3 linked regions of the Homo sapiens genome follow. The protein of the gene in region 3 purifies or fractionates together with the protein of the main gene of each other region. This does not show direct contact. Each region holds a gene or a part of one and is shown on either strand. Other genes may lie near its edges. The genes, in order: UQCC2, UQCC1 and COX20.

Region 1 (3,752 bases), on a different chromosome or scaffold from region 3:
GCAGCAGGAGGTGGGGCTTAGATCCAGTTGACTGACTAGTATGGAGCTCCTCCTTGGTTAAGCCGGTTGCCAGAAGACAGAACTGGAGGGGAAAGTAGCTCTGCTCATGCCGTCTTTCCATTTCCGTAGAGGAGAGAGGCAGTCAGTCCTCCTCTCAGCCTCTTGGCTTCCTTCGTCCTAATGATCACCCTGAAAGGTGCACAGTGCACCTTTGCCGGCGTGATCTCATTTAATCCTTAGTACAGCTGAGTGGTAGCCATTACTGTTCCCATTTTACAGATGAGGAAACATCAGAAAAACAAGACAACGCACTGGGGGTTCCGTAGCCATAAGAGACAAGCCAAGTGAGAAACAGACCCAGCCCCTCTGGCCCTAGTGTGCATCGTCTCCTGGGTGCCTGGCCTTTCCTCAGCTGCTGTTCCAAGTTATTGTTAGAACAACCTCTTATTCCATGAACGTCAAACCACTTCCTTCCCCTGGTTGCCCGTTCAAACCTTTTTGGGCCATAGATAGTTTGGGCAGCAAATGGAACTCCCTGTGTTTACCCACCTATTCTTTGCCCCAGCCACTACCAGTCCAGATGGGAAGAAAGATGGTCCTGGGTGGGACACCAGGCGGAGAAAAGCTGGGTTAACTAAAGGGCAAATCAATAATTCATACACAAAACCAGAGTACAAAAACCACTGCCTCCATTTATTCCACCTCAAATTGCCCTCTGGGGAGTCTTGTGGTCCACCCTAAACCCACCAAGTGGGGAGGTGGTGGTGGGAGCGGGAACACATGTAACTCCTCTTACACCCCATATCCTATTGTGTAGTTTTAAAAAGTCAGTGTTTATGGGCTTTGCCAATTTTGAATACAGTTTGTCTAAGAACACGTGTTTCCTACAGCGCTGAGAGCTTAATAAAAGAATTGCAACGTGGGGGAAGGTGGCACAACAAATGTAATTGTTGACCTAACAACAGAGAAAGGAGCAGATCTTTCTAATGAGTTCATTAGGTGCTTCCTAAAAGATCCCGGACTGCACACCAGCACCCACTTATGTAGCACAAGGTGCAACTCCGAGGGGCGTCCTAGAAGAGCTGCTGCTCTTCGCCCACCAGGGAGTTCTAACTGTATTGTATGCAAGTTTAAGTATAATAATATTGGCCCAGTTTGAAAGAAGTTAAACTTTTTCTTGGGTTTCTAATAAGGTAAATGGTATTTCCACCTTCTCAGAGGAGAATTCAAAGGTTTTTTTGATTCTGTTTTCTCAGTCATCCATTTGAGGCCTGGTCCTTGGCATTCCTCAGTGTGGCAGGGAGCTAGCTCCCAAGCCACCTGGCATATGCTGGCCACGGTGAAGCCATCTCAACGTTGCTCACCCCCACTTGTGGGCCCCCTGAAGTTATGCTTTTGAAGAGTGTCCTAAGAACAGATTATCCTATTTTTAATTATGTATTGAGCCCATCGAAAACCTGGAGTTGTAAGGAGAATCATCTCTAAGAGGGAATACAAACATCTCCATCTTTTTTTCTCTCCCAATTCTGAATGGCGCCAGTGTGAGCTAGGGTAGTATTCACACCAAGGGGTGGCGTTTATCTCTGCATATGTAAAGCTGCAGTGCTCCACCTGAAGGGATAAATTCTTGGCCACTTCTGGTGGGTCACTACTTTATTCAAAGATGTTTGGGGTCTGCCCATTGCCTCCTGGGCAGGTGGCAGGCAACTTTGTGAGACCTGCAGTGCCTCTGATCCTTGGTCCCAGCCTGTGTTTCCAACCTTGCCTCGCACCACCCTAACATGAGCCCCAGGCTCAGCAAGGGTGTCTTCTCATGGTCTCCCAAACTGGCCATGGTACAAGCAATTCTGATCCTTTGAGACTTAAGTGCGCTGTGGATCACTGCACCCCTACAACCGCAAAAAACCCAAACACAGAGTTTGTCAAGAATTTGGTGGCTTCCCAGGCTCTTGGAGCCCTCCCTGGGTTCCCCTTAAAAGCCCTGTCTGCCTAAAACACTCTTGTCCTGTGCCTCTTCATGCCTCATCCTCCCAGTCATTTCTGGTCCCTGTGTCACTCATGCCCAGGTTGGCACTCCTCACTCTCTGCACTGTCGCTGCAGTGAAACTCAGCCCTTTCCTGCCACACCTCCCCATCAGCACAGCCAGGTGCCCAACTCCCACCTCGGGTCTCGTGCAGCGGCCCGTGCTCCGCAGATCTGGCTCTCACTTACACATTGCCCCGGGCAGGGTTGGTTTCTAATTCATGTGTATCTTGTCTCTGTAGTGTGCCTGCCAGCTTCTCCACAGCTGGCCTGGGTCGTCGTCTTTGTGGCCCCTCACCGTCCCCTAGTGGAGCACTCTTTCTATAGTAGGTGCTCAAGAAATACATTTTCAACTCAATTGAAGGGAATAGGCTCCCATAACAGAATGAACTCATTTCAGAAGTTCATTACCAAGTCTTGAAAACCTTTTTTTATAGATCCTCCTGGACCGAATCCAGCTCTACCTTAATTAGCAAAGCAATTTGCAACACCCTTTCCCAAAAGTGCTTATGCGTCCCTTTGTGTGACTAGAATAGGGGCCGCTGTACCAATTGCTGTCACCACCCAAAATTCAATTTGCAAAATCGAAATCAGTGCCTGCAGCACTGATGTAGATTTGTATGTATAAAAGTTTAATATGGTAAAGAGAAATTTACTGACGACTGAACAGGGGAAATGCAAAAGGAGCAAAAATAGAGCTATAAAGGACACTCGTCAGATGAACATCTATTTTATTCACATTTGGGGAGCAGTGCTGAATTTTTCATAATGTCCCCACTGCTGCCTTTTCAAACCCAGCACTGCTATTAGTCCTAAAACGTCTGTGATCTCATTAGGTGTGAATGCAAAATCAGGTAATTTAAAGCATGTATTAAGAATATTTCTAAAAATGCACCGTCCATTTCATCAGAAAAACTGCATTTCAGAGCTCAGGAATGTTAGTGCTGGAGTCTGTGAATAAAGTGTAAGCTATAGGAACGTGGTGAGGCTTCTGGAATTCGACAGATGTCTCCACTGACATCCTTTTAAGTAGTAAGCATGACTTTTTTAATTGCTGAGCTTGAGTTATCTGTGGCTAGGAACCCAGCATTGACCAAGGCTTCATCACTCCTCAAGCAGTAAGAACTTGGCTAGAAATGGGCATGTCTCAAACTCCTGTCACCTCCACTGAGCTGCTTTTACAGCCTCAGTTAGACACCTTCTGACCTCAGACGGGAAACTGGATGGCAAGTCTGTTTTAGGACTCAGGTGTTTGGTTTTCTTTCTCAGGTTACAGCTGAGTCCAGGAATTCTGGGAACTCTCTAGGAGACTGTCTCTTTCACACAGGAAGTTTCAGAAGTGAGAGTGGTCGGGTGCGGTGGCTCAAGCCTGTAATCCCAGCACTTTGGGAGGCCGAGGTGGGCGGATCACAAGGTCAGGAGATTGAGACCATCCTGGCTAACACGGTGAAACCCCATCTCTACTAAAAATACAAAAAATTAGCCAGGCGTGGTAGCGGGCGCCTATAGTTCCAGCTACTTGGGAGGCTGAGGCAGGAGAATGGCATGAACCCGGGAGGCGGAGCTTGCAGTGAGCCAAGATTGTGCCAGTGCACTCCAGCCTGGGCGACAGAGTGAGACTCCATCTAAAAAAAAAAAAAAAAAGAAGTGAGAGTACCTGAGGGTCACTTTGCTTTTTGCACTTAGACTTTGTACATTTTGCTCTTATAGGAGCAGCACTCTGCAAGGG
Region 2 (3,752 bases), on a different chromosome or scaffold from region 3:
CCACCCTTATCCACAGAATTATTTTCATTTTATAAAACTGAAACTCTGAACCTATTAATAACTCTCTATAGTCTTTTCTCCCCAGCCCCTGGCAGCCACCATTCTACTTTCTGTCTCCGTGAGTTTAACTACTTTGTGTACCTCATATAAGTGGAATCATACAGTATTTGACCTTTTGTGACTGGCTTATTTCATTTAGCGTAATGTCCTCAAGATTCATCCATGTTGTAGCATGTGTCAGAATTTTCTCTTTTTTTTTTTTTGGAGATAGGGTCTCGCTCTGTCATGCGTGCTGAAGTGTAGTGGCTCAATCATAGCTCACTGCAGCCTTGACCTCCTGGGCTCAAGTGATCCTCCCACTTCAGCCTCCTGAGTAGCTGGGACCACAGGCATGTGCCACCACGCCTGGCTACTTTTTTTTTTCTTTTTTGTAGAGATGGGGTCTCCTTATGTTGCCCAGGCTGGCCTTGAACTCCTGGGCTCAAGCAATCCATTGTCTCGGTCTCCCAAAGTGCTGGGACTACAGGCGTGAGCCACTATGTCCAGCCTGTTTAATTTGTTGAGGAATTGTCCTACTGTTTTCCACAGCAGATACACTGTTTTACATTCTCACTAGCAGTGCACAAGGGTTCCAGTTTCACCACATCCTTGCCAACACTTGTTATTTTCTGGTTTTTGTTTGTTTGTTTTTGAGACAAGGTCTTGCTGTGTCATGCAGGCTGGAGTGCAGTGGCCCAATGACAGCTTACTGCAGCCTCCACTTCTGGGCTCAAGTAATCCTCTCATCTTAGCCTCCCGAGTAGCTGGGACTACAGGTGTGTGCCAACACACCCAGCTAGTTTTTAAATTTTTAGTAGAGAGGAGTTCTTGCTATGTTGCCCAGGCTGGTCTCAAATTCCTGAGTTTAAGTGATACTCCTGCCTCAGCCTCTCGAAGTGTTAGGATTACAGGTGTGAACCACCACACGTGGCCTTATATTCTGTTTTTTGACAATTGCCATTCTAATGAGTATGAAATGGTGTCTCATTGTATTATTGATTTACATTTCTCTAGTGACTAGTGATATTGGGCACTTCTTCATGTCTTTTTTCTTTTTGAGACAGAGTTTCACGCGTGTTGCCCAGGCTGGAGTGCAATGGCATGATCTCGGCTCACCGCAACCTCTGCCTCCTGAGTTCAAGTGATTCTCCCGCCTCAGCCTCCCAAGTAGCTGGGATTAGAGACCTGCACCACCACACCTGGCTAATTTTGTATTTTTAGTAGAGATGGGGTTTCCCCATGTTGGTCAGGATGGTCTCAAACTCCCAACCTCAGGTGATCCGCCTGCCTCGGCCTCCCAAAATCCTGGGATTACAGGCGTGAGCCACCACGCCCAGCCTTAAATTTTGTATTTTTAGTAGAGATGGGGTTTTGCTATGTTGGCCAGGCGGGTCTTGAACTCCTGACCTCAGGTGATCCACCCGCCTTGGCCTCCCGAAGTGCAAGGATTACAGGCATGAGCCACTGCATCTGGCAAGTTTTTCATATATTTTGAATATCAATCCCTCATCAGATATATGATTTGCATGTATTTTTCCTATCCTATGGGTTGCTGTTTCAGTCTGTTGATACTATTCTTTGATACACAAAAGTTTTAAATTTTCATGAAGTCCAACTTATTTTTTTTTCTTTTATTGCCCACTCTTTTTTTTTTGACAGGGTCTTGCACTGTCACCCAGGCTAGAGTGCAGTGGCACAATCTAGACTCACTGCAGCCCCTGCCTCCCAGGTTCAAGCAATTCTCCTGCCTCACCCTCCCAAGTAGCTGGGATTACAGTCATGCACCAGCACACCTGGCTAATTTTTATGTTTTTAATAGAGAGGGGGTTTTCCCATGTTGGCCAGGCTGGTCTCAAACTCCTGGCCTCAAGTGATCCGCCCACCTCAGCCTCCCAGAGTGCTGGGGTTACAGGTGTGAGCCACCATGCCTGGCCTATTGCCTACTTTTTTGATATCATGTCCAAGAAATCATTGCAAAATCCAATGTCATGAAGCCATTCCCGTAAGTTTTCTTTTGAAAGTTGTATCATTTTAGGTCCTACATTTTGGTCTTTTATCCATTTTGAGCTAATTTGTGTACATGTTACAAGCTTTTACTATATTTTATGAGCTGTTTTCTTAGTGGCTGCCCTGGGATTACAATGAACATCTTAATTCATAACAGTCTTGTTTGGATTAATACGAACTTCATTTCAGTAATATGTAAAGACTTTCTTTCTATATAGCTCTGTTCCTTCCCGAACATTGTGTTATTGTCATCTAAATTACATCTTTATGCATTATATGTCTACCAATGTAGATTTATAATTATTTCTTCTTGTAGTTGTCTTTTAAATTAAAAAGAAAAAGAATTACAAACAAAAAATCCATTTGTACTGTATTTTTTATTTACCTAAACAGTTACCTTTACCAGTCTACTTTATTTCTTCATGTAGATTTGAGTTATTCTGTAGTTTCCTTTCATTTCAACCTGAAGGTCTGCCTTATTCTTGCAGGGCAAGTCTACTACTGACAAATTCTTTCCATTTTGTTTATCTGGGAAATCTTCATTTTTTCCTTCACTTTTGAATAATAGTTTTGCTGGATATAGAATTCTTGTTTGAAAATCTTTGTCTTTCCTTGTTTTGACTATTTTATCCCACTGCCTTCTGGCTGCTACAGTTTCTGAGAAGAAATCCACTGTTAATGTTCTTGAGGATACTTTGTATATGATGAGTTTCTTCTCTTGCTCATTTAAAGAATCTTTGTCTCTTGGCAGCTTGCATATGATGTGTCTGTGGCTCTCTTTGTGTTTATCCTATTTGGAGTTAGTAGAGCTTCTTGGATTCCTAAATTACCATTTTCCATTATGTTTGGGATGTTTTCTGCCATTATTTCTTCAAATATTTTTCGGTCCTTTTCTTTCCTTCTGAGACTCTAATTATACATATATTGGTGTGTTTGATGGTGTCCCACAGTCTGAGGCTGTTAAATTTGTTCTTTTTTTTCTTTTTTTGTTTTTGCTTTTCATTTTGAGGCTACTAATTTGTCTTTATTGCTTTTTCTTTCTGTTCCTTGGACTGGATGATCTAAATTGACCTATCTTCAAGACCACTGATTATTTTCTTCTGCCTGTTCAAATCTGCTGTTCAGTCCCTCTAATGAGTTTTTCATTTTAGTTGTTGGACTTTTCAATTCTAGAATTTATTTTGTCTTTAAAAAAATAACTTCTCTTTCTGTTGATATTCTCTTTGGTGCCATCTTGGCTCACTGCAACCTCCACCTCCCGGGTTCAAGCGATTCTCCCGCCTCAGCCTTCTGAGTAGCTGGGATTACAGGTGCCTGCCACCACGCCCGGCTAATTTTTGTATTTTTAGTAGAGATGGGGTTTCACCATGTTGGCCAGGATGGTCTCAAACTCCTGACCTCAGGTGATCCCCCTGCCTTGGCCTCCCAAAGTGCTGGGATTACAGGTGTAAGCCACCGCACCCGGCCACTTTCTTATAGTTCTTTAGACATATTTTCATTTAGATCTTTGAACATATTTGAAATAGTTAAAAATCTCTTTGTCTGCTGCCTGGGTTTTCTTAGAGACAGTTTCTATTGATTGCATTTTTTCCCCCTGTGTATGGGCCATACTTTATTGTTTCTTTGCATGTTTTATAACTTTTTGTTGTTGAAAACTGGACATTTTAAATAATGTGGCCACTCCGGAAATCAGATTGTTTCCCTTC
Region 3 (3,752 bases):
TAGAAAACCAGGAGACGTATTTGAAGCCAAGTAAAAGTAAAAAAGTTTCAAAAACAAATGATAATTTGTGCCACATATGCTGAGATGCGGATTTAGACTGCAGTGGATGTCTTTTAGAGGTCTTGACTGGTGTCAAGTGAAGTTCAGTGGATAGATGCCTCACTCAAGTGAGTTAAAGGGAGAATGGGAGGTTTTAAGTAGAAAAGCACACCTACACTCAGAAGTTTTGCCCCAAAAGGATGGTGGTTTAGGTGGCTGATGAGAGGAGAGGGGTGTATAGAGGATTTTTGGGTTTTTTTTTTGAGATGGAGTCTTCTTGCTCTGTTGCCCAGGCTGGAGTGCAGTGGTGCCATCTTGGCTCACTGCAACCTCCGCCTCCTGGGCTCAAGCGATTCTGCCTCAGCCTCCCGAGTAGCTGGGATTACAGGCATGTGCTACCATTCCTGGCTAATTTTTGTACTTTTAGTAGAGACAGGGTTTTGCCATGTTGGCCAGGCTGGTCTCGAACTTCCGACCTCAAGTGATCCACCCACTTTGGCCTCCCAAAGTGCTGGGATGACGGGTGAGCCACTGCACCTGGCCAAGAGGGCTGATAGTAAATTATTGCAAGTGAAAAAACTAACGATGCAAATGAAAGGGGTAGCTATAGAAGCCAAGCCCTTGAGTATGCAAGAGGGGAATCAAGTGCCCAAGTGGGAAGACTAGCATTAGATAGGAATAGGGCCAATTCATCCTTTGCAACCAGAGGAAAGAAATACGGGCACTGAAGCAGATTTAGTGGTGGAAAATCAACTGTCTCTAATTTGATCAGATCTATTTCTATACATTATTGACATTCTGGCTTGGAAATCTCTTGAGCTTTCCTTAGATTGATCAGGGTGAGCTGGTAAAGCTGCTTTTCTAAATCTAAGCTTAAAAAATGTCTGACATTTCCTTAATTTATTTTTAAGGGTTCCCGTTTGTTAGTGGCAAAGAGTTAAATCTTAAGTATGCAGGCTACTTAAGGAATAGAAGAGAAATGTTAAAGGCATGTATATTATGAACAGAATATTTCCGTATATAAATAGAATACTTCAAAGGGAGTTATGCCCGGGATCCTTTATTCATCTCCACTTCTGAGCATTTTACAGTTCAGTGTACTTAACTGTAAAGGTATACAGGCTCAAGTCGTTGCATATTCTTCCTGTTTTGATAGAAATTGCAGGGATTTATGTACTGAATCTTATTACTCCTTAGATATGTGACAACTGGAAAGCTCCCCACCAAACCCTCCAGCCTTGGTTACTTCTTAATGATGTGGTTTGGCACAATGAAAATGTCATAGGCTTTGTGGTGAAACTGACTTCTGCCTCCACTCCTGCCAACACTTATTATTAGCCTCTTAAGTCCCCGAGCCTGTTTCAGAGGTAATCTCACACAAAGGCTAGAGAATTAAAAAACATGTAGAGAGCCTGGCACTAATACCTACCTCCCCCACCAGCAGCTCTTAATTATGAGATCAACCACTATTATTTTAGACCAGAGTTTTGTTGGGGATTGGGTTTGTTTCAGAAGGCACTATTTTAAATAAGATGTGTAGCTTCTATTTAGATATTTGCCTTTAAAGTCAGCTGAGCTATTTTCCTATTGTTTGCAAATTTACTTTTATTTAAAAAAATAAAATTTCCTAAAGCAGTGTTTCCCCAATATGACAGTCATCAGAAAAAACCACCTAGAGTTTTCTAAACATAGATTCCAGTGATTGTAAATCAGAATCTGAGAGTGGGACTAGAAAATACTTAATTCTATCCTGTGGTACAAGCTGGTCTCACACTTGCATCTTTGCACCTAAGACTAGATCAAACTGGTACTAATCCTCTGGCCCCAGCATCCCATCCTTGGGGAAATAGTCTAGTTTAGAGGTAGTCCTGGACTGGAGCGCTAAGTCCAGCATTCCTCACCTGCATAACACTACCCACATGATCATATGTCCCCTGGGCTCTCAAGCTGATAGGAAAAAGTCGTCTTGCTAAATGAAATCCCCCAACCTCTTGGTAATGTGAAGAACTGTACTGCAAAGCTTTGAAGCAATCCTATGTTAGGCATGCGGGTGGGAACGGGGCCAGACAGAGGGAAAAAATGGAATAGAATGATCCGAGAGTAAATAATTCTTGCTTTATTATGAACCAAGTCACATTTTGTCTCTTCCAACAGATGCTTGAGCCAAAAAAGCAAACATAGGCAGAAATACAATTGAGAATATCTTCATGTTTCAACCTTTAATCTGACTTGCCTTTTACTATCCTTTCCCCATTTCTTCTAATCTCTTTTGCCTTACAATATATTACCTTCTAGGTATCACCTCATCCTATAGAATCCCTTCTAGTTTAATGTCCTGCCCCAAACAATACTAACCCATTGAAGATAACTATGAAACCTTTAAATGGACAGTGGTTCCTTTTAAAAGCAGCCTTACTGAAAATTTTATATACACTTAAATCAAGTAACAGTTACCGTGAGTTTTCTAAACTTTTGTGTTAACAGAAATGCCAGTTCAGCAGTGTGACTGTTACTTTTAAATGTCTGTCTTGCCGCCCTAGAGTGACAGACATCCCAGTTAAACATATTAGGAATAAGAAATACATAAATCCAATGAAGACTGTAGAAAAAGAATTTTAGCACTTGAAGGAACTTCAGTCATTTAACCCAACCCATTCATGTTATAGATTGAGACCATAGAAATAAAAGTAGCCTATAGGATACAAAAGTTAGCGGCAGATCTGAGATAAAAATCCAGCTCTTTGGATCCCCGCGTTTTTCACCACACTTAGCTGTCGTTCCCATGTATTACGAACAAAGAATCAAATATAATCAAGTGCAGCCTCACTTCACAGGCAAGAAAACAGACTAGAGTTTAATATATTGCCCATGTTTATCTTAAGGTGAAACATTTACTCTTACAACCACAGTTGATGTTAACCTAGTTAATAAAATATGAAAGGTAATTACTAGGGGAATTTTAAACGGCACTACATAAGCAAACATGACTCAAATTACTTTTTCCATTTCTGCTTCCCAAATTATTGGAGTTACTGAAGCAAGCTATGCTGCTTTCAATTCCAATGATAGGCATATTCCCAAATAAACTCATTTAAAGAGCTCATAAAATGAATTATCCTATTTCCAAGTCAGTTGATTAGCAAATTAAGATACAGCTCCAAGTTACCCTACTGCTTAAGGGTTTTCCGGTCCAATTTGTAAGGTTTTCGGATTTAAAGATTCAGACTGCATACCAAAGGTGGACAAAGACAACGCAAGCTGATTTAGGTTGTCACGTGGCACATACTCTAGTTTAAACCCTCAACTACAAGAAAAGAAATGGTGTATTGTCATTTTTGCCAAAGCACCCCAAAATGAAATACTTTCTTACTCAATCTAGGTTCTTTTTTTTCATTCTAGTCCCTTAAGCTCCTAGGATTTTTAGATGTTGAAAATACTCCCTGCGCCCGGCATTCAATATTGTATGGTTCATTAGGATCTGTTGTGGCTGGCTTTGGACATTTTTTGTTCACTAGTGAGTATCTGTATTTTTTATTTCTCTATGTACTAAAAAAAGCATTTCTCTACATAATGAACTATTTTTTTTTCTAGGTGGAGTAATGTATATAACGTAATTATATTCTAATTAATTGTTATGCTTATTTTTACAGGTAGAATTAGAAGATCATGTGATGTTGGAGTAGGAGGGTTTATCTTGGTGACTTTGGGATGCT

Evidence for each region.
Region 1: the proteins of COX20 (region 3) and UQCC2 purify together in Homo sapiens (affinity purification with mass spectrometry; 3 studies listed by BioGRID and IntAct, with this or other methods). This does not show direct contact.
Region 2: the proteins of COX20 (region 3) and UQCC1 purify together in Homo sapiens (affinity purification with mass spectrometry; 3 studies listed by BioGRID and IntAct, with this or other methods). This does not show direct contact.

What each region holds. Positions count from the first base shown.
Region 1 is NC_000006.12:33,704,949-33,708,700, reverse strand, and holds part of UQCC2 (ubiquinol-cytochrome c reductase complex assembly factor 2), read left to right. Parts: intron 1-3,752.
Region 2 is NC_000020.11:35,405,367-35,409,118, reverse strand, and holds part of UQCC1 (ubiquinol-cytochrome c reductase complex assembly factor 1), read left to right. Parts: intron 1-3,752. UniProt on the Homo sapiens protein: Required for the assembly of the ubiquinol-cytochrome c reductase complex (mitochondrial respiratory chain complex III or cytochrome b-c1 complex). Involved in cytochrome b translation and/or stability.
Region 3 is NC_000001.11:244,838,506-244,842,257, forward strand, and holds part of COX20 (cytochrome c oxidase assembly protein COX20, mitochondrial), read left to right. Parts: intron 1-3,438; coding exon 3,439-3,553; intron 3,554-3,689; coding exon 3,690-3,752. UniProt on the Homo sapiens protein: Essential for the assembly of the mitochondrial respiratory chain complex IV (CIV), also known as cytochrome c oxidase.